Homo sapiens: one gene and its partners. The protein of the gene in region 2 purifies or fractionates together with the protein of the main gene of each other region. This does not show direct contact. Each region holds a gene or a part of one and is shown on either strand. Other genes may lie near its edges. The genes, in order: AGPAT3, SLC31A2, PLSCR1, REEP5 and CDS2.

Evidence for each region.
Region 1: the proteins of SLC31A2 (region 2) and AGPAT3 purify together in Homo sapiens (affinity purification with mass spectrometry; one large-scale study listed by BioGRID and IntAct). This does not show direct contact.
Region 3: the proteins of SLC31A2 (region 2) and PLSCR1 purify together in Homo sapiens (affinity purification with mass spectrometry; one large-scale study listed by BioGRID and IntAct). This does not show direct contact.
Region 4: the proteins of SLC31A2 (region 2) and REEP5 purify together in Homo sapiens (affinity purification with mass spectrometry; one large-scale study listed by BioGRID and IntAct). This does not show direct contact.
Region 5: the proteins of SLC31A2 (region 2) and CDS2 purify together in Homo sapiens (affinity purification with mass spectrometry; one large-scale study listed by BioGRID and IntAct). This does not show direct contact.

What each region holds. Positions count from the first base shown.
Region 1 is NC_000021.9:43,964,482-43,970,650, forward strand, and holds part of AGPAT3 (1-acyl-sn-glycerol-3-phosphate acyltransferase gamma), read left to right. Parts: intron 1-3,464; coding exon 3,465-3,634; intron 3,635-4,636; coding exon 4,637-4,798; intron 4,799-6,169. UniProt on the Homo sapiens protein: Converts 1-acyl-sn-glycerol-3-phosphate (lysophosphatidic acid or LPA) into 1,2-diacyl-sn-glycerol-3-phosphate (phosphatidic acid or PA) by incorporating an acyl moiety at the sn-2 position of the glycerol backbone.
Region 2 is NC_000009.12:113,152,695-113,158,863, forward strand, and holds part of SLC31A2 (protein SLC31A2), read left to right. Parts: intron 1-5,032; coding exon 5,033-5,099; intron 5,100-6,169. UniProt on the Homo sapiens protein: Does not function as a copper(1+) importer in vivo. However, in vitro functions as a low-affinity copper(1+) importer.
Region 3 is NC_000003.12:146,525,906-146,532,074, reverse strand, and holds part of PLSCR1 (phospholipid scramblase 1), read left to right. Parts: intron 1-3,243; coding exon 3,244-3,461; intron 3,462-6,169. UniProt on the Homo sapiens protein: Catalyzes calcium-induced ATP-independent rapid bidirectional and non-specific movement of phospholipids (lipid scrambling or lipid flip-flop) between the inner and outer leaflet of the plasma membrane resulting in collapse of the phospholipid asymmetry which leads to phosphatidylserine externalization on the cell surface.
Region 4 is NC_000005.10:112,896,455-112,902,623, reverse strand, and holds part of REEP5 (receptor expression-enhancing protein 5), read left to right. Parts: intron 1-105; coding exon 106-244; intron 245-4,252; exon of another isoform or gene 4,253-6,169. UniProt on the Homo sapiens protein: Plays an essential role in heart function and development by regulating the organization and function of the sarcoplasmic reticulum in cardiomyocytes.
Region 5 is NC_000020.11:5,174,417-5,180,585, forward strand, and holds part of CDS2 (phosphatidate cytidylyltransferase 2), read left to right. Parts: intron 1-766; coding exon 767-863; intron 864-2,231; coding exon 2,232-2,329; intron 2,330-4,400; coding exon 4,401-4,540; intron 4,541-6,169. UniProt on the Homo sapiens protein: Catalyzes the conversion of phosphatidic acid (PA) to CDP-diacylglycerol (CDP-DAG), an essential intermediate in the synthesis of phosphatidylglycerol, cardiolipin and phosphatidylinositol.

The DNA of each region.
Region 1 (6,169 bases), on a different chromosome or scaffold from region 2:
GCCCAGCCCAGGTTCAGATTTTAATGGTAACTTTGTTAAGTATAGGGTAGGAAAAAAGAGAGATCAAACATAGCTTCCAAAGTATTAGAAAAAGATAAAGAAAAAAAGGTAAATCTCTTTTGTTAATGCAAGAAAGTAGAAAGAAAAGCATTAAAATAAGAAATATTGAGGTATACATTAAGATCAATATAAAATTCCCAGATACTTGGGATGACCACAAATACACAAGAAAAGCACTTCAGTAAGAACAGAAATAATCGGCCTCTCCATCTGCTGGGCTTGCGTGGGTATGTGAATTCCGTCTGTGACTTGTTGGATTTGGGATGTTCTCCACTTAGATTTATTTCCATGAATATGTTTGTGGGAGCCTTTCTGCAGTCAGAGGTATGTGGAAGCCTTTGCCAGTTCAGGGGCGCATGGTGAGAGCAGACCTCACAGTGGGTTTGTTTATGTTTGTTTGTTTTTGAGACAGGGTCTTGCTCTGTCGCCCAGGCTGGAGTGCAGTGGTGTGATCTTGGCTCACTGCAATCTCTGCCTCCTGGGCTCAAGCAGTCCTCCTACCTCAGCCTCCTTGAGTAGCTGAGACCACAGGTGTGCACCATCATGCCCAGCTAATTTTTGTATTTTTTGTAGAGACAGGGTTTTGCCATGTTGCCCAGACTGGTCTCCAACTCCTAGGCTCATGTGATCCTCCTGCCTCAGCCTGCTGGGCTGCTGGGATTACAGGCTGAGCCACCGCACCAGCCACAGTGTTTTCTGATGACCCTGAACCACGGTTTTATTTTCAATTCTTCATTCCTGTTCTCATTCCTTAATGCTGGGTGCCTTCTTGCTGCCCATTTTGAACTCACTGCCAGTGTGTCTCTGCTGTCATCTGATGTGCAGAGCTATAGGTGCTGCGGCGAAGGGTGCAGGTTTGGAGCCGTTTAAACAACCTGGCCCAGCCTCCTCACTCCCTGCTGACCTTGGTCAAGGCTTCAGTCTCTAAACCTCAGCTTTCTCATCTGCAGAGCACAGACAAAACCACCTGCCTTTGAGCTGTCTTATAAAGCCTAAATCAATGCGCACAGCAGGTACACAGCAATGCTTGATAAATTGTTACTATTATTGGGTGAATTTTAGGTTTTTTTTGTTGTTGTTGTTGTTTTGAGACAGAGTCTCTCTGTTGTCCTGGCTGGAGCACAGCAGTGCGATCTTGGCTCACTGCAACCTCCATCTTCTGAGGTTCAAGTGATTCTCGTGCCCCAGCCTCCCAAGTAGCTGGGATTACAGGTGCCTGCCACCACATCCAGCTAATTTTTTTTATTTTTAAGTAGAGATGGGCTTTTGCCATGCTTCCCCAGCTGGTCTTGAACTCCTGGCCTCAAGTGATCCTCCTGTCTCGGCCTCCCAAAGTGCTGGGATTACAGGCTTGAGCCACCGCACCCGTCCAGAATTTTAGATTTTTTTAAATCCGTGGTTGAAAAATAGGCTATGGCTGGCTTACTCATTGTGCTTTAGGGAAGCATGTATTTGAGTGAAGGAAATGATAAAAGGAATTTCATATCGGGCCCAGGCGCCGCCCACCCTGCAAGACAGTTTACAGATGCCTGCCCTGACAGCTGTCTGCAGTTAGCCAGCGTCAGCCGAGGGGTCCTGAGATCCGCTGAAGGCTGCCTTTGCATGCCGACAGCAAGGGAAAAGTGCCACATGTCCCTGGGCTTGCCACAGGTGACCTTTGGATGGGACCATTCTCCAGACAGCGCAGCTCGTCTTTCCAGAACACTCATGGGGAGTGTGCCTGTGTCTGGCTGGCTGTGTGGGCTCCCATTCAGTTCATTCCCCTTCTCCAGCCTTTAGGCATGACCCTAAAGGCAGAGGTCTCAAGCACTTGCCAGGGGTGAGCCAGCGGTGGGGGCGCCCCTGCCAGGGCAGGCCTGCTGTGGGGGCTTGGTCAGCGAGTCTTCTCCCCACACGCAGGATTTCCTCCCGTCCACTGCCTCTGCCCACAGGTGACCTTTCTCTTTTAAAGGAATTGGGGTCCCTTGGTACCCCCACAAACCCTGAGTTCCCTCTCTCCTTTCTGCGTCCTTTCTGCTCGCCTGCATGTGCCTGCAGCATCATGACCGCTGGGAAGACACTTCCCTGCACCTGCACGCTGTCTGCAGGCGTCTCTGGCCATCCTGGGCTGAGCTGCGTGATCTCGGGTAGCGGCCCTTTGTTCACCCGTGCAGGATGTCTTTGGAATTGGTCTCTAGTGTCCTTTATAAATAACTGGTATAAAAGAACCCCGGGCAATGGCCTTGCAGAAAGCCCACACTTCAGAGCTGGGCTGGTGTCCAGCGCGAGAAGCCTGAGGCCGTCCTGAGCTGGAAGCCGCGTCCTGGTTCTGTGGGGCCATCCTTCCCGGACAACTGGCTGGGGGGCACAAGACTCTGGTGGCCGACAAGAGGCCCACCTGCTTGGCCTCCCTCTTGTCCTTCCCCACATGGCCCTCTGAACAGGACTAACTCCCTCTGAGGCCCACGTGTGACAAAGATGCACCGTTCTCACCACGGAACTCTTCAGCCCTGCAGTTCTCCCGAAGGTGAATGAGGGCATCCCAGAGTCCCCATCAGGAGACAGACGATGCTGCGTTCCCAGCAGCCCCAGAGCCCTCCCAGGCGTGCAGGTCTCCTGCCGGCAAACAGATCTCCCGGCACGAGCCCCTCCACACTTCTGGGAAGAGTGTCTTCAGCTCACCAGGCCGGAGCCAGGGGAAGAGACCAAGGGAGGAGGCTCCAAGAACCCCTGGGTGGGGGGGACAAGCACTCAAAGCCAGGACTGGCACCCCTCACATGCCAGCACCCACGGGGTCAGGTGTGCCCTGCTGTCTCTGGGGACCCCGCAGGCCTCTGGCCACCTGCCCAGCAGCAAGCCCCGTCGAGCACCCCCAGCCGGCCTTCCTGGGGGCGGGCTAGGCCTCACATGGCTTTTTTTTAAATATGGAAAACCAGTGTAACCCCAAAGCAAGTTTTAGGAGAAAATATAATTCCTATTACTCTGTCGTCTATAATTCCATTCTGCTCTTAACTCTTCATTTTTTCCCACTGTCTGTTCTGCAGACATACGATGGTTGTTTTCTGCTTCCTAATCATCTAGTGACATTTTTCATCTTCTGCACCTCTCACGGGGCGTGGCTGTGCGGTACTCGGCCACACCAAGGTGCACGTGAGAAGCGTAATTGGGCGTAAAGATCAGCGTCTCCATGCAGAGTGGCGGTTCTCTCCCTTTCTGCTGCTACCTTCCATCTGTCTCCTCCCAACTGTTGCTTAGAGAAAGTTATTGTAATTTCATAAAACGTACTCAGTGTAAGTCATCAAAACTCATGTTTAGCAGAGACTTCCTCTCTGGACAAAAATACTGTAGGTGTCTCCTGTGGGCGCTCCCTGACCATCCCAGGAGGAGGGGTCCTACCAGTGCCAACGCCCTCCCCCTGTCCGCAGAACTGGTCATGCTGCTGGAGTGGTGGTCCTGCACGGAGTGTACACTGTTCACGGACCAGGCCACGGTAGAGCGCTTTGGGAAGGAGCACGCAGTCATCATCCTCAACCACAACTTCGAGATCGACTTCCTCTGTGGGTGGACCATGTGTGAGCGCTTCGGAGTGCTGGGGGTGAGCGGGGACCTGGGGAGGGCCACGGGTGAGCAGGAGGGTCCCGGGGAGGGCCGGGGGTGAGCGGGGACCCAGGGAGGGCCGGGGTGAGCAGGGGGTCCCTGCAGGGCTGGGGGTGGGGTGGTGACTGGGAGTGAGCTGGGCGGGGTCCCAGGAGGGCTGGGGATGAGCAGGGTGGGGTGGTCCTGGGGAGGGCTGGGGGTGAGTGGGGGGTCCCAGGGAGAGGCTAGGGTGAGCACCTTCCAGGGGAGGTGCTGGGAGTGAGCGGCAAGGGTCCTGGGGAGGATCTGGGGGAGTAGGCGGGTGCTGGGGTGAGCAAGAGGGCCCTGGGTGGGGGAGGTACTGGGTGGAGCAGTGGGGGTCCCAGCAGAGGAGCTGGGAGAGCCTTGGGTTTCCCAGGGAAAGGGCTAGGGGAGCAGGGGACTCCCTGAGGAGGTGCCGGGGAGGCCCCTGGGGTCCGAGTCCCTGGGTGTTCCTCCTGGGGCGTCTCTTTGAGCTCGGCAGTGGTGCCTGGCTGGTTGAGGGGCCCTGGCCCGCAGGGCCTCAGCTGTCCCCGAGCTGTGCCCTCCTTTCTCATCATGGCCTTTGCCTTTGAGATGACCCCACCTGCGTCCCTGCAGAACCACTTCCGTTAGCTAAGCTGCCTCAGATGAAACCTAAACTACTCCCCGATGCTGGCAGAAGAATTTCATTGCAGTCAAAGCCCCTGTGTGAGGCAGCACCCCCAGGCCACCCCCCGGAAGCCTGGCAGCCTCTGCATCCGGCTCATCCACCTTCCCTGAGGGCCCTCCCAGCCAAGCCTGAGCCTCAGTTTCCTCATTTCTGGGGCGACCCACTCACCCTCAGAAGCCGGGTCCTGCTTCACAGCAGACCCCCTGAGCCACAAAGCCGTGACTCCTAGAGCGACACCACACAGGAGCTGGGTGCAGCGGGAGCCTGGCCAAGCCCCTGGCCTCTGTCCGACGCTGAAGTGCCAGGTGCCCCTCCTTCTCCTCCCTCCAGAGCTCCAAGGTCCTCGCTAAGAAGGAGCTGCTCTACGTGCCCCTCATCGGCTGGACGTGGTACTTTCTGGAGATTGTGTTCTGCAAGCGGAAGTGGGAGGAGGACCGGGACACCGTGGTCGAAGGGCTGAGGCGCCTGTCGGACTACCCCGAGTACATGTGGGTGAGTGCGCGGAGCAGCCCGATACCCTGCATGCCTGGAGGAGGCCACGCCAACTCCTGATGCACGGCTGCCCACATCCCAGGCTGGGAAACCCCATGAGAGCCTCTGCACATGGGGTGCTGTTTCCATGGGGCCATGACTCCCCCATCTGAGCTGCAGGCGTGGAGGCTTCTCTTGGGCCACCTGCTTGCTACTCGCCGCAATCCCAGCTCTGACCAGGCCATCCTAAGGGGATCTGGCCGGGGGAGGGGGCAGAGCAGGGTGCCCCCAGTGAGCCCTGGCTCTGCCCGCCCTGCTCAGTGTGCATCCCCATTCTTTTTCTGTCCCTTCTTCCTGGTCTGTCTTGGAAAATGGGCTGCCTGTGCTGTTAGCATTTCTGTTTTTTTGTTTTCTTGTTCGTTTTGTTGTGTGTGTTTTTGTGTGTGTGTGTGTGTTTGAAACGGAGTCTCGCTCTGTCGCCCAGGCTGGAGTGCAGTGGTGCAATCTCGGGTCACTGCAACCACCACCTCCCAGATTTAAGCGATTCTCCTGCTTCAGGCTCCCAAGTAGCTGACATTACAGGTGCGTGCCACCACACCTGGCTAATTTTTTGTATTTTTAGTAGAGATGGGGTTTCACCATGTTGGCCAGGCTGGTCTCAAACTCCTGACCTCAGGTGATCCGCCCACCTTGACCTCCCAAAGTGCTGGGATTATAGGCATGAGCCAGCTTGCCAGCCTGCTGTTAGCATTTCTTTTTTTTTGTTTTGAGACAGAGCCTTAGTCTGTCACCCAGGCTAGAGTGCAGTGGCATGATCTCAGCTCACTGCAACCTCTGCCTCCCGGGTTCCAGCAGTTCTCCTCTCTCAGCCTCCAAGTTGCTGGGATTACAGGCACTCACCACCACGACTGGCTAATTTTTGTATTTTCAGTAGAGACGGGGTTTCACCATGTTGGCCAGGCTGGTCTTGAACTCCTGACCTCATGATCCACCCGCCTCGGCCTCCTAAAGTGCTGGGATTACAGGGGTGAGCCACCACGCCCGGCCTGCTGTTAACATTTCTAACTCATGCTGTGGCAAGTCGATGAAACCCTCTCTGTTTTCACACTGCTCAGAGGCTGCTGCCCCAACACACCTTCATGTTTCACTTCTTTCTGGAAAGTTCTTTCTGGAGAGCTCTCCTGTGTGAATGAACGTGTGTGACTGGAGTGCAGACTGTGGCCCTAGAATAAAAGAACCTTTCAGTCATAACCCATGCTGCTCGCTAAAGCGGTTCCAAGATTTCCACAAATTCAGCCACAACCTTTGCTGCCTGTCAGAGAGGCAGGCCTGGCCTGGACATGCACCCACCCCAGCTGCTCTGTGGAGTGACCCTGTCTCCGTGTTGATCCT
Region 2 (6,169 bases):
AAGACTTGTCCCATTCATCTCTGTATCGCCAGGGTCTGCACAGACCTAGCACAACAAAAAGAAATCTTTCAAATTACTCTTACTGTTCTGTGGGTGTTCAGGTCTATGGCAAAACATGTCTGGGCTGTTTTGGGCTCCTAAGATAACTGGCCCAGGCCCAAGGATGATAGAAGGAAACCAGTTATGGCAACTCCCTGACTGATTAATTAGCCACTAGGGACATTCCATTCATACCATCTGCTTTACCAAATGGACTCAGAGAAGGGGTGATGGGTGTCACCCCTACCTCTACCTGGCAGAGATGGTGCTAGAGGCTTCTGCTGAGGATGAGGCCATCTCCGGTGTAAATGGAGTTTCACAGTATTGTTTGTACCTGTTTGGTTTTGTATATCAATCTTGCGTAAACATTTTGCTGTGTCAAAATGTTTTTTTTTTTTTTGAAAGCCTAACAGGAGAGATCTCTGAGTAGTAAGACTCAAAATGATTTTTTACTTTCTTTTCGGTACTGTGTCAGCTTTTTACATTGAGCTAGTGCCATTGGGGGTGGGGGGTAAAAGCTATTCTTATTTTTAAACTCTTCAACATTTTTTAAAGTCTTCAACATGATCTTTATCATGTTGTGATGTGACCGCCTAGATTTCCATTTTGAAGCTCTCATATAATTTACTTGACCAGTCCCTACTGGTTGACAGGAGACCATCATGGTTCCTATGATTTCTCAAAGTGTGACCCCCAACAAACACCTGTCCTAGAAACACCTGTCCCAGAAACACCCAGTACACTAAGGTTTGAGAACCAGTACAGGCTTTCCAGAAAACTCTCTGGCTCTGGGTACCTGATTGCCGAGTGACCATGGGGAGATAAGTGGGCTTTTATGTACCTTCCTTGTTAAAGAGGTTAATAATAGTAGGCACCTGCGGAGATGTCACAGGGAGTGACACATAATAAATGGAAGGTGAACGTGGTACAGGCACATGCAGTCCCTCAGAAGACACAGAGCTGTGTGGCTGTTCTGTCCAATCAGATGCTTTCACATTTCTTTCTCTGTCCTGCAGCTCCACGGTCTCCAGTGAGCCCAGTCCCTGGGTAGGCGCAGGCAGGGGTTGGTGACACAAGTCAGACCCCTTTTGGCACTGAAAGGCATGTTAGCTGAGTGTAGGGAGTAGAACAGCCAGGTTAGTCCCAGGTCTCTACCAAACCCCAGGCTGCAGCGTCCAAATCTGAGAGATGCATAGATGTGGTGCCCCATCCAACCCGGAAACAGAGGCACACTCACTGTTATTGTTGTTGTTTTTGAGACAGAGTCTTACTCTATTACTCAGGCTGGAGTGCAGTGGCATGATCTTGGCTCACTGCAACCTCCACCTCCCGGGCTCAAGTGATCCTCCCACCTCAGCACCTCCCAAGTAGCTGGGACTACAGGCACATGCCACCACACCCAACTAATTTTTGTATTTTTTGTAGAGACAGGGTTTTGCCATGTTGCCCAGGCTAGCACTTTTTTCTTTTACAAGGTTTCAGGAAGAGTAGATAGAGTTCAAGATGGGAGCCTGTGAAAGTGAGGCCAAACCAAGGGAAAGGGTTCCTAGAGTCCTGTCCTCATCTTACAGACGAGGAGACTGGGTCCACAGGGGGCTTTCTGCGTGTCAGCAGCTCAAGGCCACGCAGCTGGTTCCTGGCAGAGCTGGGAGGGAGATCCAGGCAGTGCAGCTTTAGAGACCGTGCCCCTAACCACTAGCCTTGCTGCCTCTGTTCAAACTGCAACAAAGTGAACTGAGCCTCAGAATCTCCTGAAGGGGGCTGGTTAAAATCTATGTCTTCCCTGTCTCCTGTGGCTCTGACCCTGGACTCTGATTTAGGGGCCTGAGGAGGCCCAGGAATCTGTACTTTTAATAAGGCCCTGGAGTCTAAGCAGCTGCTGCTGTCCCTCTACACTAAGCCGCTTGCCAGTGTGGAGCTCATGATTGGCCTGTGGTTTCCCAGTGATTCACCCGGGACTGACTCTGCCTCTGTGGATCCGGCTATAACAGCATCGTCATCCACACCTGTGATCCGCTCCAGTGTCCTCCCTCCCACCCTATCCTCTTTGCCTTTTCATCCTGTTGTCCGCTGTTGTCCCTGGGCTCTGGTCTTACTGTCCCATCCCCAGACTGGTCCTTGTTTGTTTCCTTTATTTAAGGTGCACTCTTCATCTTTCTCAGGAAATATGGGCCAGCTATTGGCTGAACATCCTTCGGGGGCTAAGCATGACTATCCTAATTGCACAGAGGCTTTTTCTCATACATTCCTTCCTCTCCCCAATTTCTTCCCATATTTTGTTCCAAAGTGGCCATATCAGTTTCTTCTGCTGTTTGCATATCTTCCTGAAATGTTAAAACAACCGAACGACAGCACAGCCCTCATCTCTGTCTAGTATTGCACAAGAAAGTGGGCTGTTCTCTGTGTTGTAGCATCTGTTTTCCTCTTGCCAAATGAGGGCCTGGTAAGAAGACCCAGGATCCAGTCCTGATGCTGCCACCAACTCACAGTGTGACCCTGGGCATGTCACAGCTGCCCCTTGGACTTCCAGTGCTGCCCTGAGAAGCTGCATTGAGAGCAGTTAGGAGCACAGAATCTGAAACCAGCCCACCCAGGCAAAATTCTAGCTAGCAACTTGGCAAGTTACTTAAACTCTGTCTGCCTTAGTAGTCTCATCTATGAAATGGAGCTAAGAATAATAATTCCCCTCTTGAAATTGAGTGAGTTAAGACATATAACATTTTTAGAAGAGTGCCTGGCACAGAATAATCAGTGTCATTTCCCTCCCAGCATGAAAAAAGAGGGTTGCTCTAAATTAGCACTTCCTAGAGGATAGTCTATGAGATTCTTTCCCACAGGGCACTCAGCAAGAGAAAAAGGGGAGGAGAGAGTTCTGGGTACAGGCTTCTGGCAGTGCAGAAAGCTATTAAACCTTATTTTGTCTAATTCCAGTCTCTCTCAAACTCCCTTGACCATAGAATCCATTTTTCCCAGTACCTCCTAGCATCCTGTACTTCTCCCATGGAACACTTCTGAGAAACACCCCTCCAGCTTTGACATGTATGGGAAAAAAAGGCACTGGGGTTATTGAGCCCTTACTGTGTGTCACTTTGTGTGGATGGCTTTGCAGAGTTTTCCCCCAGCTCCCCTCGGAGGAAACTGAGGCCAGAGAGAGGCCCTGGTTAACAAATGTGTTTTGTTCCAAATCCTGGACTCAGACTACTATTCTTTACTATCTCCTTTGGTCCTAACTGTTGAGAGGGGGAGGATTGGAGACGACTAGAACATGCAAGGCCTGTGGTTTAGGGCTGTCGTCTGCAAGCAGAAGTTTGTGGCTCTGGTTTCCAGGAGGCTACAGGACACCCACATGGCACAGCTTCCTGACAAAATGGCAGCTAATCAAATCTGCCTACCTTTCCACCCCCACACTGACGTTTGCCTCCACCGGAACTCCTTTTCTGTAAGAACTGATGGCCCCCACAGCCTTCACAAGTACCCACAGTCTCACTCCATATCTTCCTCCCTTGAACAGAAACTGAGAGTAACCCGCTTATAAGGAGGTCCGGCAAATCCTTTTCCCTCTTCATACTCATTTTCCTCACCTGGAAATGAGAGGGGGTGGAGAGGGACTCAAGTTGGGCCAGATCAGCATTTTTCAAACTGAGTTTCATCAGAGCTCATATTTCTCTCCCCTCTCCACCCTGAGCCCCGTGTTTTACATAATGGAATTAGAAGAAAGATTTTAATTGGCTGGTGTTCCCTGGTGAAGAAAGCTGAAAGCCATGGGACTAAAAACTCTGAGGATACCTCTAGTGCTGAGATTCAAGGATTCTAATATTTGGCCATTGTCTTAGAAGGCAAAGGCTTCCACTAGCTGATTACAACTCAGCCAGGATCTCCTTAGCTGGGTAACACTGACAGTGTTTGCAGAACTGCTTGTGCTAGCTGAGGGCTTACCTGGGGACCAGAGGGGGCCTTCACTTCCCTGAGAGGGTGAACTAACTGATAGATCTGTTGGGCCCTCATCTTTCCAAACAGTCATTAAGCCTGGTGTGGGCGTCTGAACTCACCATCCAGCTCCCACTGTACCCTCCTTTCTTGGAGATTGGGAGGAAGCACCGTGTCCTGGAATGTCCAGGGCTTTGGAATCCAGCTAGACTCAGGTTTGAATCCCAGCTCTGCCAACTTACTAGCTTTGTGACCACCAGTAAATTACTTCTCTAAGTCTAGTTTCCCTAACTTTCCTTCCTGTAAAATGGACCTAATTGTCCCTGTCACACAGAGGACTGTTGTGACAATGAAATGAGATGATGTAGAAAAAGCCCTTGATGCCACCCTGAACACAAGGTGGAGCAAGCACCCTCTGAAAAGGCATCTGACAGGCACTGCATGGTCACTGCTTTTACCTGCAGTCTTTCCTGTAAGGCTGTGAACTCACCAAGGTCAGAGACATTAACCTACTTCCATAATGCTTGGCACACAAACTGGGCTCAGCAAATGTATAGTGAATGAGTAGGCAGATGTGGAGTACAGTGAAGACAGCTGCCTCTGGGCCCCTCCACGATAAACACTGTGGGATCTGTCTAGACTGAACAGGACAAAGAGGACTCCAGGCTTCCATCACACGGGAGCCTGTTCTGGAGCTGCAGCAGAATGGCTAGGGTCCCGGGGGGGTAAGAAGAGGCAGTTGCACTTGGAAGGCATGGAGGGGACATCCCCACATAGTCTGAGGACACTGTCACATCCCGAGCCAGTTGGTCCAGTGAGGATGGACACTCCCACACCTCTATTCTCATATGGAGCATGGCCAGCTCAATTATAGCTCTGCTGCTGACCCTCTTGGGCAAGTCTCAGCTCTTTATGGCCTCAGTTGGCCCTGATGACTTCTGATGGCCCTTCCAGCACTTCCAGTGACCCCATTTTTCTGGGCTCCCAGAGGAGGTGCTGGAGAGCATTAAGGACCGTAACTTCCACTGCCCTGTGCCCCTATGATGCAGATTCCTTTCTCTTTCAGATGCATTTCATCTTCTCAGATACAGCGGTGCTTCTGTTTGATTTCTGGAGTGTCCACAGTCCTGCTGGTAAGAATTGGGGACCTCAGACTTGTAGCTTGGAAAGCCTTGTAGTACTAGGCAAGGGAGAATCTGGGTTCTCTTGATTCTCTGTGGGCATTTAAGTGAGGCTGATTCCTCTGGCATAAACACTGAGCAGGAACTTCACAGTTATAATTCCATTTGTAACCACTCCCCTTCAGATCGCAAAGGGCTCCATTATCTTACTGATCCTCACAAAGGCCGAGAGGCAGGGAGGCAGCTTTTCCCTCTGTTACAGGGCAAGAAACTAAAGCCCAGAGACAGGAAGAGAGACTCGTGCAGGGTCACACAGTAAGTACGCATCAGAGCCACTACTAGATCAAGGCCTCCGGGTGTCACCTGGCACCTCCCTTATCCAGGGCTCATTGTTCTGCACCAGTTCAGAAGCCCACAGCAGCTGCTGGAGATGAGACACCAATTTGAAAGGAAAGAATATTCCTTTGATTTGAAAAGGCAGAGTTTGTCACTAATTCATGAAGAAGTTATTTTTCAACTTAAATAACTGCATCTTAAAAAGAGACTGGAAACAGCCCAAATGCCCATTATTGCGGGTGCAGATTAAATAAATTATGGTCAGCCCTACAATGGGTTACTATTTCTTGTTATCTATTGCTGAATAAACAGTGGCTTAAAACAAGTCATTTTATCATTCTCTCTCAAGGTTCTGTGAGTTGACTGGACCCAGGTGAGTGGTCCTTACTGAAGGTCTCTCATGCAGTATAGTCAAACAGTGGCTGGAAGTAGGGTCATTTGGAAGAGTTCCTCACTCTCATGCCAAGTGGCTGATACTGGTTGTTAGCTAGGACCTCAGCTGGAGTTGTTGGCTGAACACCTACATGTGGCATCTCCTATGGCCTGGGCTTCCTCGTGGCAGAGTGGCTAGATTCCAAGATCGAGTGTCGCAAGAGAACAAGGTAGAAGTACGTGGGATTTTCAAGACCTAGCCTTGGAAATCAGATAAAATTACTTCTACCTTTATTGGCTGAAGCAGTCACGAAGGTCTTCCTAGGCTAAAGGAGAGGGAACAAACATGGACCCCACCACTTGATGGCAGGAGT
Region 3 (6,169 bases), on a different chromosome or scaffold from region 2:
GCTAAGAGTAAGGATAATTTAAAATTGAGATCTTACCATGCTTTAGTCATTGTTTTAAATGTGGAGTTAATGTGGACTAACACTTTTAATTCTTAGAATACTCTTATGAGGTAAATACTGTCAGTTATCCCCATTATGTATGTGGGAAAGCTGAGGCATAGGAAGTTTGTATCAGGCTTCAAGTTCTGCCTACTTTAAAAAAAAAATTCGTATAGGTAAATGTGCTGGTAAACCAGGTTCTGCCTTCTGTACTAATAGTTATGTGGTAGTTTAAACAAGTTGCAGTACCTCAAAGCCTCAGAGTTCCTATCTATAAATAAGGGTGATATTTTCAATGTAGGTTGCTTTGTAGAGTAAATGAGAGTATATGTAAAACACTGAGCACAATGCTTGCAAATTATAAATGACAAGTATTTGCTAACATATTTAAAATATTTTAAATCAATTAGTCTTTACATAAATGATACTAGTATTCAAATTTCAGGTAATTCTTTATGCTTAATTCATTGATTTGAGGAGTAATCCATCATACTTTCAGAGTCTGGGGAAAATTATGATGATGTTAAAAATGTAAGAAATTAACTCACATCTCCATATCCCCACTGGTCTGCCTATGGTCTGGTTTCTGTGCTGACCCCAGTGATCTTTAAAAATGTAAATCTGCTCATATTACAGAGAGTGTAGAGCCCCTATTTTATTAGTGGCCTATTACTTTTAGGATAAAGGCTAACACTAAACTCAGGATGGCCTTTTCCATGCTCTCTCTTTAACTTCCTCTTGAGCCTGGCTTGCTGTTATTCAGCTAGACTGGCTATTTTTCAGATTTTTAAAGGCCTATGTTAGTTACTGTCCCAGGACGTTGCTCTGAAATGTTCTTTCTGTGACTCTGGCCTCCTGAACTCCTGTGCATCCTTCAGATCTCAGCATAAAGGTGACCCCTCAAGGCAGCTGTTCCTGCTCCTTCCCTTTTTCTCTTCCCATCTCAATAGCGACCTTTGGCATCTCTAGTCATAAAACCGTGGTCTCTTACTTGAAAGCATTTATCTCCAATTCTAATGAATCAATTAATTACACTGGTATTATAGCTCCCTAGAATAAGTGGGGATATAAAGTTGTCTCTCTCATTAAACAATGATGGGCAGGGATTGCATCTGTGTTTTCCATTGTAAATTCTAATGCTTTTCCACTCCTGAAAATTTTGTAAGATATAGATAAGACCATGGAACTCATTCTTCTGCTTAAATTCCTCCAGTACTTGCCAATCATAATTGGAACCAAATCCAGACTCCTTACTAAGGCCTCCTTTGATGAACAGCTTCCTGTTGCTTTGCTAACAGCCTTTCCTAGTCGTCTTCTTTCTTATGACATTCCTCTCTCTTTTACGCCTGTCAAATTCATTACAAAGTCAGAGGTATTCTATTTGCCTTTCTTTCCTCCTGAAGCATTTATCACTAATCTTCATATAAAGCTTTTCTCTTCTCATCTTTTAGACCTTGATATAAATTATATTTACCCAAAGTAACTGCCTCATACCCTGCCCTCGCTCGCATACATTCTCTCCATCACATCCATATGAATTTTTTTTGTTTTAAATGTGTTTTCTTTCTCCCAGAAGTTGACTGTAAGCTCTCTGACAGCAGGCTGCCTCCTTGAGAATTGTATCCTCATATTCTACAACACAGCCAGTCACATTATGATCATTTGTAAATATTCATTCATCATAAAGGAATAAATTATAAAAGCTATATTTATGATGCATTATTGTGAGGTTTATTCTGTTTTTCTAAGCCTTATTTTTGAAGGGCAAATGAATTTTATCATAAATGATCCATTTAAAAGAATTTGTAAATTTCCTATTCTAAGTATTACATTTTGCATAGGCTTTAATGTTAAAATATTGAGAAACACAGTCCTTTGAAATTGTATTCCACTGCTATGGAATTGCTACACTGTGGACCATACAAACAGGTATATAAATCTTCATTGTAATCACACATTCGCAGAGAATATGAAGTACATTTACTGTTATTAAATTTCTGCCTCTTACAATTTTTTGCCATCCTTGTTTCTCAAATTATATTTTCCAGAGACCAAAGGATGTTAAATTGTGAAATTTAAATTTCTAACCTAAATATTATAATAGAATTTTATTTTAATGAAGAAGGACTTAGGAAAGCAATACATTATGGATTAAAACATAAGGCAAAGGATTAACCCAAGCAGGCATCTGGAATGTACTAAAAGAAATGACGTGTACTAAACGAATGGGCGCGGTGGCTCACGCCTGTAATCCCAGCACTTTGGGAAGCTGAGGTGGGCAGATCACGAGGTCAGGAGATCGAGACCATCCTGGCTAACACACTGAAACCCCGTCTCTACTAAAAAATACAAAAAATTAGCTGGGCGTGGTGGTGGGCGCCTGTAGTTCCAGCTACTTAGGAGGCTGAGGCAGGAGAATGGTGTGAACCCAGGAGGTGGAGCTTGCAGTGAGCAGAGATGATGCCACCGCACTCCAGCCTGGGCGACAGAGCAAGACTCTGTCTCAAAAAAAAAAAAAATGGAAAGAAAGAAATGACGTGCTTTCACCTTCAACAGTGGCACTATAATATTTTGGGCTGGACAATTCTTCATTTTTAGGGAGCTGTTCTGGCTCTTTTAAGATGTGTAGCAGCAGCCCTGGCCTCTACCCACCAGATGCAGTATTATCTTCCCCTCCAGTTGTGACCAAAAAAAGTCTGCAGATCTTGTCAAATATCCCTGGCAGAGAGGGGGCAAAACTACCCCCAGTTCTATACATATATTATAAGGCATTTGCTAGAATTTCAGAATTATCATTTTTCACAAGATACTTTGGCCCTAGAAATGCTGACTCAAAGCCATTATTTTGGGCCTTCTACCAATGACGTGTTTGTTTCCCTTGAAGGCTTGCCAGAATCTTTATGTAGGTGACTCTAGATCATGGTTATTTATTTTCATTTTCTCAGATATTAAAGCATATTTTCCTTCTGAGTTTTGAATGGTAAGGGTAAGGCTATTCACCGCATACTATCATCCAAATAGAAGTGGATGTGCAACCACAGATATTTCATTGAAAAATCTCAGAAAGAGAAAAGCGTATTAAACATCACAGATACAGATGTCTACGCTGAAATGTCAACTTATAGATAGATGGCATAACCCTAAAAAGGTTGACAATTCCATTTTTGGTGCAGTTACAAATCATTTCACTTGTTTGTATTTCAGGACCTCCAGGATATAGTGGCTACCCTGGGCCCCAGGTCAGCTACCCACCCCCACCAGCCGGCCATTCAGGTCCTGGCCCAGCTGGCTTTCCTGTCCCAAATCAGCCAGTGTATAATCAGCCAGTATATAATCAGCCAGTTGGAGCTGCAGGGGTACCATGGATGCCAGCGCCACAGCCTCCATTAAACTGTCCACCTGGATTAGAATATTTAAGTCAGGTAATTTCAAAGACACAAAATACTCATAAAAAACAGAACTGTGCTTCCAGCTTGCTTAACCAGATTAGCAAATGAATAATTCACCAAAGTCTGAAATAGCAAAACTGTATTTTCTGCTAACAGATTACTCTAATTCTTCTAGGTCTGGTTCAATTTTAAAGCAAAATACAAATGCCTTAGAAAATTGTATTTTCTGTTATCTTAAATACAATCTATGATAATGGCCAATAGCAAACATTTAATTAGCACTGTTTCCTGCCTTTGTTGTATGCCTGATACATGTATTAACTCATTTAATCCTTATTGAAAGTCTGTGATGTATAGGTGCTACATTTTTCAAAAGAAGAAACTGAGGTCCAGAGAGGTTATATAGCTCACTCTGGGGTGAGAACCTAAAGAGTCAAGACTGTTTTTTTAATCCCGAAACTTTGGTACTGAGCGAAGTGCTCTTTAGTCTCAATACTGAATAATTGCCTTATAATTTGGAAGAAAATTTAAATAAAGTTTATTGTTGAGTTTCAATAAGTGGCCCCAAACAAGGGGTTAATATTTTATGTATAATATGACTCACCTTTTTATTGTAACTAATAAAACTGCATTTTTATGATGCTGCTTTTGTTCTTTGGAAGACCTAATTTTATAAATGCCATTAATAAAGGAGTAAAAAGTCCTGGATTTTGTTGCACTAAATTATAATTAATCTCAGCAATAAGAGGTTTAACATTTAATTGGTGTTAGAAATCAGGTAGGTCAAATAGAAACAAGAAACTCTGTGTGTCCAGTCTATACACATACAAATATTCTTGTGATATTCAACCAGTTTTCATTTCATAAATCATTTCTTTCTTGCACTCTCTTTAGTAACTTAATTTCCCACAATGTGCTTAAGTGGCATAATCATAGGAATTTTTGGTCATTATTATATTATGCAAGAAATACATAGAAATAGATATTTTAAAAATCAGAGTCTCATAAAATACATAAAGGATGTTATCACATATGACAAAGGTTGATATTAAGTATGCTTAATACAAATCTGAAACTTGTAAAAAAAAATCTCTTTGATGGCTAAAAAAGTTACCAATATTTCTTCAGCCTATTCTAGAAGGAAGATTGTTTTCTACCTTTTGAATTGTTTTTGACACATAATAATTGTGCATATTTATGGAGTACAGTCTGGCATTTTAATGCACATGTACTACGTGTAATGAAAAATAAGGATAATTAGCATATCTGTCACTTTTAATATTTATCATTTCTTAGTGTTGAGAACATTCCAAATCCTCTCTTCTAGCTATTTGAAAATATACAATAAATTATTGTTAATTATAGTCAGCCTACATAGCTATAGAACACTAGAATTTATTCCTCCTATCTAGCTGTAATTTTGTATTCATTAACCAACTTCTCTTTATACCTCTCCTCCCTACCCTTCACAGTTTCTAGTAACCACTATTCTAGTATCTACTTTTTTTTTTAGATGGAGTCTCATCCTGTCACCCAGGCTGGAGTGCAATGGCACGATCTCGGCTCACTGCAACCTCCGCCTCCCGGGTTCAAGCTATTCTCTTGCCTCAGCCTCCCAAGTAGCTGGGCTACAGGCTCCTGCCACCACACCCAGCTCATTTTTGTATTTTTAGTAGAGACGGTTTCACCATACTGGCCAGGCTGGTCTTGAACTCCTGAACTTGTGATCCGCCTGCCTTGGCCTCCCAAAATGCTGGGATTACAGTCGTGAACCACTGCGCCTGGCCTCTACTCTCTACTTCTAAGAAATCAATTTTTTTAAGCTTCCATGTATGAGTGAGAACATTCAGTATTTTTCTTTCTGTGCCTGGCTTATTTCACTTAACATAATGTCCCTTAGGCTCATCCATGTTGCTGCCAATGACAGGATTTCATTCATTTTTATGGCTGATTTTTATTCCATTGTGTGTATTAAGAATGAATTTTTCTTTATTCATTTATCTATTGATGAATACTTAGGTTGATTCTATATATTGACTGTTAGTGCTGCAATAAGCATGAGATTGCAGATACCTCTGACATATTGATTTCCTTTCCTTTAAAATTTTTGTTTTGAAAATTTTGAAAAAATACTGTTTCAAAAAAAACAGTAGTGGGATTGCTGAATCATATGGTGGCTGTAATTTTAATTTTTGAGGAACCGCTACACTGTTCTCCATAATGGCTGCTCTAATTTACTTTCCCACCAACAGATTTCCCCTTCTCCACATTTTTACCATTATTTGTTATTTTTTGTCTTTTTGATAAAAATTCTTAACTGTACAAAGATAATATCTCATTGTGGTTTGGATTTCATTTCCCTGGTGATTAGTGATGTTGAGCATTTTTTCATAAACTTACTGGCCATTTTGTATCAATTTTCTTTTCTTTTTTTTTTCTTTCTTTTTTTTTTTTTTTTTTTTTGAGATGGAGTCTCACGCTTGTTGCCCAGGCTGGAGTGCAGTAGCGCGATCTCGGCTCACTGCAACATCTGCCGCCTGGGTTCAGGCGATTCTCCTGCCTGAGCCTCCCAAGTAGCTGGGACTACAGGCACCTGCCACCACACCCAGCTCATTTTTTGTATTTTTAGTAGAGACAGGGTTTCACCATGTCAGCCAGGATGGTCTCGATCTCCTGACCTCGTGATCTGCCCACTTTGGCCTCCCAAAGTGCTGGGATTACAGGCATGAGCCACCTCAATT
Region 4 (6,169 bases), on a different chromosome or scaffold from region 2:
CCTAAGTTTCTCAGTGGTATCAGAGGACAGGTTATGAAAGTGTATTTGAAAATCTTTCATTGATATCTTACCAAATGATATACTTTCTTTTGTACTGCCTTTCAGAATTAAAGCTATAGAGAGTCCCAACAAAGAAGATGATACCCAGTGGCTGACCTACTGGGTAGTGTATGGTGTGTTCAGCATTGCTGAATTCTTCTCTGATATCTTCCTGTCATGGTTCCCCTTCTACTACATGCTGAAGGTATGTTGGTCTTGCTACCACTAAAACTCCATCTCAGTACCTGTATAGAAGAAGTAGGAATAAATGCTTGAATGTTGTGCATCTGTGGCTCTGTCTCAGATTATAAACAAGAAGACAGGCCTGGGCAACAGAGCGAGACTCTGTCTCAAAAAAAACAAAAACAAAAAAATGCTCAAGCAAGCCACTTGCCTCAGCCTCCCGAGTAGCTGGGACCATAGGCGCACACCACTGCACCTGGCTACTCTTTTAAACAATTTTATCTAAAGAAATTTAGATATAGGAAATTAAATATAGGAAGCTCCATCACTCCAACCACCATCATAAATGGTAGTATCTTGAGTTTTAGTTCTGGTTAATTATGGATATATAATTCTTTTTGTCTTTGGTCTTAGCCTTTTTTTTTTTTTTTCTTTTTTTGAGATGGAGTCTTGCTCCGTCGCCCAGGCTAGAGTGCAGTGGCATGATCTTGGCTCACTGCAACCTCCACCCCCCAGGTTCAAGCAATTCTCCTGCCTCAGCCTCCTGAGTAGCAGGGATTACAGGCGCCCACCACCATGCTTGGCTAATTTTTGTATTTTTAGTAGAGACAGGGTTGGTTTTTTTAAAAATCTATTTATTTGTACTTCTTCTGGGAGATTTCTCAATCTGACCTCCTTTTTTTTTTTTCTGAGATGGACTCTTGGTCTGTTGCCCAGGCTAGAGTGCCATGGTACAATCTCCGCTCACTGCAACCTCCGCATCCTGGGTTCAAGTGATTGTCCTGCCTCAGCCTCCCGAGTAGCTGGGATTACAGGCATGTGCCACCACGCCTGGTCAATTTTTGTATTTTTTTTGGTAGAGAAAGAGTTTCACCATGTTGGCCAGGGTGCTCTCGAACTCCTGACCTTAAGCAATCCACCCACCTCGGCCTCCCAAAGTGCTGGGATTACAGGCGTGAGCCACCGTGCCCGGACTCAATCTGACCATCTAATTTTCAACTGTACTCCATGATTACATTATAACCATTCTGTTATTCCTGCTATATACCGTGTTCTTCATTTCAACTATTATATTGTTCACACCTAATGTTTTTGCTTGGCTCTCTTCTTCTTGTCCTTGTTTCATATTGCTAATATTTTCTCATTTCTTTTAGTATGGTTACCGCTCCCCAGTTTAAAATTCTTGGTCAGCAGTTCTAATATTGTTGCTCCTGACCAAAACTTGTAGTTGATTGTGTTGTTTTTCTTTTGAAATGTACTCTTGGCCAGGCGTGGTGGCTCATGCCTGCAATTCTAGCACTTTGGGAGGCCGAGGCGGGCAGATGGCCTGAGCTCAGGAGTTCGAGACCAGCCTGGGCAACACGGTGAAACCCTGTCTCTACTAAAATACAAACGAAATTAGCTGGGTGTGGCAGAGTGCACCTGTAGTCCCAGCTACTCAGGAGGTGAGGCAGGAGAACTGCTTGAATCTGGGATGCAGAGGTTGCAGTGAACCGAGATCACACTACTGCACTCCAGCCTAGGCAACAGAGCCAGACTCCATCTCTAAAAAAAAAAAAAGAAATATATTCTTAAAATATCTTTTTATTTTAGCCTACAAACTGCTTTTCATCCATGAGTATCAGCTATCCCATCAGGCACTGGAATGGAGGGGGCCCCAGTCCATGCTAGTACTAGTAAGTTCTGGGTAGGGGGTGGATGAGTCCTAGGAGTGGGGGGCCCCAGGCACACAGGAACCATAGTTAACCACTCTTCACCTACAGAAGAGCTCCTCAGGTCAAAGCTTCACTGTACAGTCCCCTTCTACCCCAGCAAAGCAGCATCAAAAGGAAGTGATCCTGGGTTATAGTTCACAGCTCTAGGGGTTGGAGCAGGAGGGGTAGGGAAGTAACTGCCTTTAGTTAGTGTCCACCTGTTTTCCTGAGTGATTTGCAAAGACAGGACTTTTATGCCAAAACCTCTGTTTTAGAAAAAAGTAGAGGACAATATTTTTTAACTTTGAGGTATAGAAGCAAGACAAAATACAAAAGTTTCAAAGAAAAAGATTTGATAAATTCAACTAAAAATTTCTAAAAATTAAATTTCTATATGACAGTGGGCAGCATAAACAAAGTTAAAATAATGACAGACTAGGAAGATAGATTTACAACATTTACACCAAATAAGGAATATCCAGAATACATAACAATTTCCATAAGTAAAAAGAAAAAGAAAATGGGAAAAGGTTCTAAGTTAAGTATTTCACGGAAGAGAAAAAATATGAATGGCTAGTAAACAGCTCACCAGTGATGTGGGAAGTGTGAGTTAAAATAGTGAAATCCCATATTTTGTTCATTAAACTGGCAGATATTTTAAAGATTGAAAATATCTGGTATTGGTGAATGTATAGGGAAATGGACATGTAATGGTACAGGCTGAACATCTGAAATTGGAAATCCTAAATGCTTTAAAACCCCAAACTTTTTGAGTGCCCACATAATGATCAAAGGAAATGCTCATTGGAGCATTTAGATTTTAGAGTTTCTGATTTGGTATGCTCAGTTGGTATAATGTACATATTCCAAAATCTGAATAAATGTGAAACCCGAAACACTTTTAGTCCCAAGCATTTCACATAAGGGATACTTAACAGCCTAGTGGTATAAACTTGAATAACCTTTTTAAGGGACCTTTTAACCATTTCTTGTTGAATTGAAAAATGATACTCTTAACAATTCTAAGGAAATAGTCACTGTGCATTAAAGAGCTGCACAAAGATATTCATGGCAGCATTTTTTGTTGTCAACTGTATATAATATGAACTGCATAATGTAAACATTATAAACAGAAATGTCCATCAGCAGGTAAATGGTTCATTCAATTAATAGTATATCCATACAGTTAAATGGAATGAAATAGATCCATATGTACAGACCCAGAAATTTTTGCATAATTTAGTAATTATGAAAAGTTATACAGGACAGTTGTGCTAGCTTTTGCCTGTAATCCCAGCATACTCGGAGGCCAAGGCAGAAGGACTGCTTGAGGCCAGGAGTTTGACACCATCCTGGGCAACATGGTGAGACCCTGTCTCCACACACACAAATTTAAAAATTAACCAGGCTCCCAGATCACAGCATGTTGACCAAAAAAAAAAAAACCGAAAACCAAAAAACAAATGCCAGGCATGGTGGTGCATGCCTGTGGTCCCATCTGCTCAGGAGGCTGAGGTGGGAGGATGGTTTGAGCCCAGGAGTTCAAGGCTACAATAAGCAATGATCACCCAACTGCACTCTAGCCTGGGTGACAGAGTGAGACCCTGTCTCGAAAAAGAAAAAAAGTAATAGAACATTAAATACAGTATCACACCATTTATGGTTAAAAAAGAAAAAAGACAAGACACTATATGAAGTGAGTGTCTTTTAAAGTTTAAAAAATTAAATGAAAACATGCTCAGTATAGATTCTTTTATATTTTTGAATGACTTCACCACAGAATGCCTTGTAAGGCAATTAAGAATTTTCCTTTCAAAACTGATGGAAGAAAATAAAAATTGGTCTGTGGAAAGAGTTGATTTCAAAGATTGGATTTTTTTGTTTTTATTATTCAAAGTCATTTAACATTTATAAAAATATTCTTACAATCTTTAATTTGGACATGACATAATTTAAACTTCAGATAATTTTAAAGCCCTTAATAAGATCCATCTAATCGTAGGGACCTCACAGTAGTCTTTAGTGGAAAGAAATTGGCTTTTGCTTTGGGCCCACTTGCTTGTGGCAGTGAACACTATCTTGTCAGCAGAACTACTTGCAGTAGTTCTGACCTCAGACTTCCAAATGTGAGCAAGCTTGACTTCTAGCCTACTCCTAATCACCTCTGCTAATGGAGTTCACAGAGAGGTAGAGAGAAGATCCAAAATAAATGGTAGTCACTGAATCATTTATATTTGGTTTTGAAGTTCATTTAAAATATTGCTTTGTAGCAGACTTTCTTCCCTAATGGTAAAATGAATGTGCATCCATTAGTAGTCTCCAGCTGCATGGCATCATAGTGTTCATGAAAGTGAATTTATTGCATACATTCCAAATAGATAACATACTTGAAAGGATTAAACATTCATGATGCTGTCAATCAAAATACTTTCTTCCTACATTAGTGGCATACTCTGAATGACCTAGTGAACAGACTGAGAAGAGGCCTCTGAATTGCAGAGTCTCGTCTGTAGGAGAAGGTTCAGGAGAGTATTGAATTTTAGGGACTAGAATCCATCTTACCTATGCTGTTGCAATCGCATGCTGACTGGAAGTGTGGGAAAGAGACTTACAAGTAAGGACATGGGTTTGTTTTGTTTTTTGTTTTTTGGGACAGAGTGTTGCTCTGTCACCCAGGCTGGAGTGCAGTGGTGCCATCTTGGCTCACTGCAACCACTGCCTCTCCAGTTCCAGCGATTCTCCTGCCACAGCCTCCCAAGTAGCTGGGATTACAGGCACGCACCACCACACCCAGCTAATTTTTGTATTTTTAGTAGAGATGGGGTTTCGCCGTGTTTGCCAGGCTGGTCTCAAACTCCTGACCTCAAGTGATCTGCCCGCCTCGGCCTCTCAAAATGCTGGGATTACAGGTGTGAGCCACTGCTCCCAGCCCGAGGACATGTTTAATATTTTATTTTTTGCAGAGTTAATATTGTTGGCTTTATTTTCATTTTTCTAAAGCAGCTGATAAGATTGGAGGAAAATAAAAGGAGCCAATGGCTTGGCATCAAAGCTTAGTTGAGAAGATAATATATGATGTATTTAGGTAGAAATTGGATCATGCATATTCTGAGCTTTGCTCTGACATCTGGCCTTGAGCAAGAGGGTTTAAAAATAAATTTAAAAGCTTTTTTTCTTGATTATGAAATTTACATATGCTCATTCCTTTATTCAGCAGATTTATTTAGAACCTCCATGTGCCAGATTCTGTTCTACATCTGGGAGATACTTTGGCGAATAAAACAAAGTCCTTGTTGTCCTACTGTTTACATTTGTGTGTGTGTGTGTGTGTGTGTGTGTGTGTGTGTGTGTGTGTGATGGGATGTGTTTTATGTAGGGAGGAAAATAACATTTGTAATCCTACATCTTAGAGTAGTCTTCCTATTTTTTAAAATGTGCAAATATATTGGTCTGTGTATATAAATAAAAACAGAACTCTGTGTGTATGTGTATATATATATGTATGTATTGCTGTCTTAACATATGTGTGGCTTAGATCACATATGATATATAATTCTGTGTCTTGCTTTTTTCAATTAACACAGTATTCTGAGTATTTTCTCATGTTATTCAGTATTTTTTGACATAGCTATCTAATGTTATTGATAATTTACCTACTTCCCAATTGAAAGACATTGAGGACATTTGTCATGCGATTATACATAATGCTGCAATTAATATCTTTGTATCCTCTGTTTACCTTCATTTAAATCATTTTCTAGATTTACTTTACTTTTTTTGAGACGGAGTCTTGCTCTGTCGCCCAGGCTGGAGTGCAGTGGCGTGACCTCTGCTCACTGTAACCTCTTTCCCAGGTTCAAGTGATTCTCCTGTCTCAGCCTCCCGAGTAGCTGGGACTACAGGTGCACAACCACGCCCGGCTAATTTTTGTATTTTTAGTAGAGACGGGGTTTCACCATGTTGGCCAGGCTGGTCTCAACTCCTGACCTTGTGATCCACCCACCTCAGCCTCCCGAAGTGCTGCAATTACAGGCGTGAGCCACCAGGCCTGGCTAGATTTATTTTTAGAACAAGGTTGAGTAAACTCTGGCAAGATTAGGTCCTGACCTGAATTGTCACCTGTGCTATTTCACCCATTGACAGAGAATATAACATTTTTCTTTTCTTTTTTCTTTTTTTTGAGATGGAGTTTCGCTATTTCACTCAGGCTGGAGTGGAGTGAAGTGGCGTGATCTCTGCTCACTGCAACCTGT
Region 5 (6,169 bases), on a different chromosome or scaffold from region 2:
TTAATATATGTAAAGTCCTCATAAAATTACCTTACTCAGGCCGGGTATGGTGGCTCACGCCTGTAATTCCAGCACTTTGGGAGGCCGAGGCGGGTGGATCAGGAGGTCAGGAGATCGAGACCATGGTGAAACCCCGTCTCTACTAAAAATACAAAAAAATTAGCTGGGTGTGGTGGCAGGCGCCTGTAGTCCCAGCTACTCGGGAGGCTGAGGCAAGAGAATGGCATGAACCTGGGCGGAGCTTGCAGTGAGCTGAGATTGTGCCACTGCACTCCAACCTGGGCTACAGAGGAAACTCTGTCTCAAAAAAAAAAAAAAAATTATGCATATTTATGGTAGCTGTTATTATCATTGCATAATGTTACTATTATTCCCATAATTATTCAGGGCAGTGCAGTGTAGGATCCTGCTGCTGGAAAAAAATATTTTTTTCTTCAGATAGTCAGCTGTAGAAACCATCCAAGTGGATACAGAAGCAGAGGGCACTACATTTCCCTTGGTTTTTTTGTTTGTTTGTGTTTTGCCTGATACCTTCTTTAAGATATAAGCTAGGTTTATTTTTTGCCAAGTTTGGTTGTGACTTAGGCATTGGTACTAGTGGTCCTGCTCCTGCCAGCATGTGGCTGGTGCCTCCGTCACGGTGAATCTGGAAAGGACTGAGCTCAGGGCCCTCATCTCAGGAAGATCCATATCCCTTGAGTTTGTGCATTGGTTTTTTTCTGGGCTCCTAACTGGTGTTTTCTCCTTCCCCTGCTCTCTGACCTAGATGGAAGAACTGGTGGGTGAGAGGCATCCTGACTTTGGCCATGATTGCATTTTTCTTCATCATCATTTACCTGGGACCAATGGTTTTGATGATAATCGTAAGTGCCATTTCACACTATTTTAGTTTTCCCTTCAGTTTTTGCTGCAGGCCCGGTTGTCTTAAGTGCGAGGTGTTGGGTTGGTTGTGGGAATTGACGGGGGTCCAGGCTTCTCAGAAAACCTCTGCCATAGAACATCTGTGACTTCCCACTTCTCAGTAGCCACCTGGAGGGTCATTGGTGTAGGCTGGTTGTTTATGGTTGAAGATGTCTCAGTGTCTTTTCTTTTAAAAAACTGACTTTATTGCCTGTGATCCCAGCACTTTGTGAGGCTGAGGTGGGCGGATCACGAGGTCAGGAGTTTGAGACCAGCCTGACCAACATGGTGAAACCCTGTCTCTACTAAAAATACAAAAATTAGCCACGCGTGGTGGCACGCGCCTGTAATCCCAGCTACTCAGGGGGCTGAGGCAGGAGAATCCCTTGAACCTGGGAGGCAGAGGTTGCAGTGAGCCGAGATCATGCCACTGCACTCCAGCCTGGGTGACAGAGTGAGACTCCATCTCAAAACAAACAAACAAACAAACAAAACTGACTTTATTATTCCAACTCTGTAAACTTTTACCCTGGGCATGTCTCTATATGACTCCTGGTTTCGTTTCCTGTTTTCCTGGGGCCTCCCTTCTGGGCTTAGAGCTTTTGTTAAGGAAATCCCAGTCCACAGAGCTGCTCTGTCTGTCTTCCCACTGTCCTGGACAGGGTCAGGTGACCATCAGCTGCATGTGAGCAAAGCATTTGACTTTGAATACTTGAGACTTTTCAAGTATTCAGAGTCAAAAGGAGAATGGATTGGTTGAATCCTGGGAGGTTCTAGAATAAAAAGTTAAAAAGGAGGTTTTAGAATAAAGTTAATTGAGGGTCAGGCATGGCGGCTCACGCCTATAATCCCAGCACTTTGAGAGGCCAAGGCGGGAGGATCACTTGAGCCCAGGAGTTCGAGACCAGCCTGGGAAAGAAGGTGAAACCTCGTCTCTACTTAAAAAAAAAATCCTTTTGGCTGGGTGCGGTGGCTCACGCCTGTAATCCTAGCACTTTTGGAGGCTGAGGCAGGTGGATTGCTTGAGCCCAGGAGTTCAAGACCAGCCTGGGCAACACGGTGAAACCCTGTCTTAAAAAAAAAAAAGTTAATTGAAACATCAGGGTGTGTATTTTATTGTGAGTGGAAAATTGGATCTACTCCCTGTGACATAGAGGGCTGCATTGCTCTGTGGGATGGTATGAGAGAGGAAGAAGGAGGGAAGCAGAACCACTGGAGGCCCGATATTTTTCTTAAGTATAATGGGTTTTCTGGAAGGCTCATGACCTGTTGGTTTCCATTTCCAAAAATCATAAGAATTGGGGTGTCAGTGAATGTTTTGTGTCCCGCAGGTGATGTGCGTTCAGATTAAGTGTTTCCATGAGATAATCACTATTGGCTACAACGTCTACCACTCATATGATCTGCCCTGGTTCAGGACGCTCAGCTGGTAAGCTCTCCGGCCCCACAGAGGCTTTTAGAATTTGGATGATGTGCTTTGTGGCAGGTACTTACAGTGACGGTGGGTATTTCTATCACTTGCTATAGAGATAAATGCTGGAGAGGCAGTTATCATGTTAGGTCATACAAAGTTTCATGAAGAAAATGGTATTTGAGCAATAAGTGAAGAAATGGGTAAGAGAATGTTAGGAGAATGTTAAGAGAAAGTTAAGAGAAAAAGGCAGGAGAAAAGAGGTGATTGCCACAGACTCGCACAGTGCCTTTGAGACCTGAGTATTTCATAGGCCAGACTGTGTGGTTGGCCTTGCAGGAGTCTTATAGTTACTTGAAGTCTGGAATCTTCCTGAGAAGAAACCAGATGGGCTGCATTCTGTGACTGTGTTTGCCTCGCTATTTGGATTCCTTAAACTCTGCATGATGATCCCGTTTTTCTAGATCAGTATATTTTTCATGCCGTCATATCTCAGCATCCCACTAGAGTTGTCTGGAAGTTGTTAGGTTCTGCTGCCGGCTTTGCTTGTTATCCTTGGAACTTGGTTTCCTTATCTCTAAGACAGATGGTTGAGACTTACTGGTTTCCAGACTGTGGTGTTTGAGCCCTACTTCATCAGAGGTGTTTTGAGTGCCAGAGTGGGCAGGAGTGAGGCTGAATGCATGGGATCTGGGCTCCGCTGGGAAAGTTGGCTTTCTCCGTTTCCTGGGAAAGGATTCAGCTTTCTTAAAGCAAAAAGAAAAACCTGTAACACATGTCTGAGACCCCTTTCTGATCTGAAACTCTGCTTTATTGGCCGTAGTATTCTCAGGTGGTGACTTTTGAGCAGAGCACTGCACCATGCTGAGAGGACCTGGGGCAAATGTGGACCTTCTCACCCCACTGTGCAGGGATACAGGGGTTGAAGCCATGACTTAGCCGGCTGGAGAGCAGTGGTTTTTGCCCCAGCAACCTGGTCACTGTCAAGGAAGCCGATGTGCTCAGATGTAGGCTGGGCACCCCCTTCCTGAGGTGTTTCCTGTCACCCAACAGACAGGCTGCCTCCCAGCCTCCAGATGGAATTGGGATTGCCACCTGGCTTAAGATGCAGGTCCCTTTTGTGGCTGTTCTTTAGCTGGAAAGCAGTGTTTTGCATTTTGTTAACATACTCAGGAGGCCTGACTCCTGGCTGTGGTCACTTTACAAAGAAAGTTTTTTCCATGTAACAGAAAAGAAACCCAATATGGGAGTTTTTGTACTTCATAATTTAAAAAAAAGAATGGGAAAGAAAAGCTCTCCACTTTCTTCTCTATCTCAGGATCCTTGCTGGGGGTTTGCAGTGATGGCTGCATGGTGCCATACTCAGCAGTACTGTGGAGGCTGCAAGGGATGGCTTCTCTTCTCATGAACGCCAGTTGAGGAGAGAGAATACACAAGTGAAGAGTTAACGCTAATGGAAGGTCTGTTTGTCAGAGCCAGGCTTCAGAGAGGCAGATGCATCATTAATTGCTTAGTCAGATAATCACATATTACTTGCTATAGAAATAAATGCAGGGGAGGCAGATGTCATGTTAGGTCATGCAAAGTTTTATGAATAAAATGGCATTTGAGCAAGGAGTGAAGAAATGGAGAAGCAAAGAGAATGTCAGGAGCAGGAAAAAGGCAGGAGAACAGCAGACAGGTGTGGCAAAGCCGGAAGAAACCATTTTGATAGGAGTGAAGGAGTTCCTGTTGGGAAGAGTGGAAACGAGACTGGGGAAGCAGGATGAGGCGTGTTTTTGAAGGTCATATGGTTCAAGGATCCCTCAGTTAGGTATGGGAATGCTACAAAAGGGGCAAAAACGGAGTCTCAAGTTTGGGAGAAATGGAGAGTGAATGAAAGCTGCTGTCTGTTTCTAGATAAATTTCTCACCTACGGTGTCACCAGAGAGCAGGAAACCATGGTCTGCCTGTTGCTCTGTGAGCTGTCCCGGGGGACTCAAGGGTGGGGGGTATTCTGCTGCCCTCTGTCCCTTCCTCTGGGATGTCTGACTGCCTTGCTGTGAAGGCAAGGGTGCTCCCCACGGCAATGACCTGTCTTCATTTACAGGTACTTTCTCCTGTGTGTAAACTATTTCTTCTATGGTGAGACAGTGACGGATTACTTCTTCACCCTGGTCCAGAGAGAAGAGCCTTTGCGGATTCTCAGTAAATACCACCGGTTCATTTCCTTTACTCTCTATCTAATAGGTATGCATTAAGCAGTTCACCATTTCTTGTGTCTGTATTGTTTTTGTATGTCTGTCAGGTAGGAATTGGGGAATTTCTTGGTTAGTATACAGTTTTGTGACATTAACTGTGACCATGCAGGGGAGCAGAGCTGATGCTCTATGTTAAGCTGTAGCAGCTGTTACCTTTTTTTTTTTTTTTTTTGAGCCAGGGTCTCACTCTGTCACCCAGGCCAGAGTGCAGTGGCACCATCTCGGCTGACTGCAACCTCCACCTCCCAAGTTGAAGCGATCCTCCCACCTCAGGTCCCGAAGTAGCTGGGACTACAGGTGCCTGCTACCATGCCCAGCTAATTTTTGTATTTTTAGTAGAGACCGAGTTTCGCCATGTTGGCCAGGCTGGTTCCGAACTCCCGAGTTTAACTTATCCGCCTGCCTTGGCCTCCCAAAGTGCTGGGATTACAGGTGTGAGCCACCACGCCCGGCCTTGTAGGAGCTCTTTTAAGAGAAGCAGAGTGTAGGGGCAGGACTGTGGCCTGTGCCACCTGCCCCTGTGTTTCAGCCACCATTGAGGAACAGCACAGCATGGTCCTGTCCTGACTCTCCTGTTGGCAAAGATTCTGCAGTGGGACCGAAACAAAAATCATCTAGGAACTTACCATCTTTAGGGGAGTCATTTTAGGAGACCGCCTTGGGTGACATTGTAGCATGGTGGAAATTTTACTGGATTTGGGCGTAGACTCTGCAACCTCAGGGGGAGCTAGGAACATAATATTTCTGAGTCTCAGCTCTTTTGTAATCTAGAGCTAAAACTGCAGGGTTACTGTGAGGATTAAATCAAATACATTAAAACTTCACAAACATTAAAGCGTTATATTAGTATACATTCAGGTAAGGCCACGTACTAATTCTAATAATGCTGATGGTTTTTCATAGCTACCTTCAAAGCTAGTTTGAGGTGCACGAAAAATTTGTTCTGACCTCAATGTCAATCTGACCTATTTTTGATCAGCTTGATAGCAATACTTCTGTGAATGACACCTGACTATTAAAATATAAAATCTGCAAAGGGGTCTGCTGCCATTGAGGATATTCAGAGAGTATGCTGCAGACCCCGAAAGCAGCCTTCCACAGTGGGAGGTAAGGGGTCTGGAAAAGCGACATGCTTATTTCTGGGCAGAACTGCTTTTGAGGATCTCCGCATGTTTATGGATAAAGGTTCCTTTCCTTCCTGGAGAAGGGGTCTGCGGACATGTTGTGCTACCATCTAGGTCACTGTGAGAGAGATAAAAAGGTGGTCTTGACCCTATACCATGTGGATCCCTCTTCTCCCAGCCCTATGAATACTAGGACAGGTATTGGCAAACTTTTTTTTTTTTTTTAAGGGGAAGCAAGTTTATTAAGAAAGTAAAGGAATAAAAGAATGGCCCTTAGAGCAGCCCCGAGGGCTGCTGGTTGCCCATTTTTATGGTTATTTCTTGATTATATGCTAAACAAAGGGTGGATTATTCATGTTTCCTTTTTTTAGATCATATAGGGTAATTTCCTGATGTTGCCATGGCATTTGTAAACTGCCATGTCACTGATTGGAGTGTAGCAATTAGGACAAGCAGAGGTCATTCTCATTGCTATCTTGATTTTGGAGGGGTTT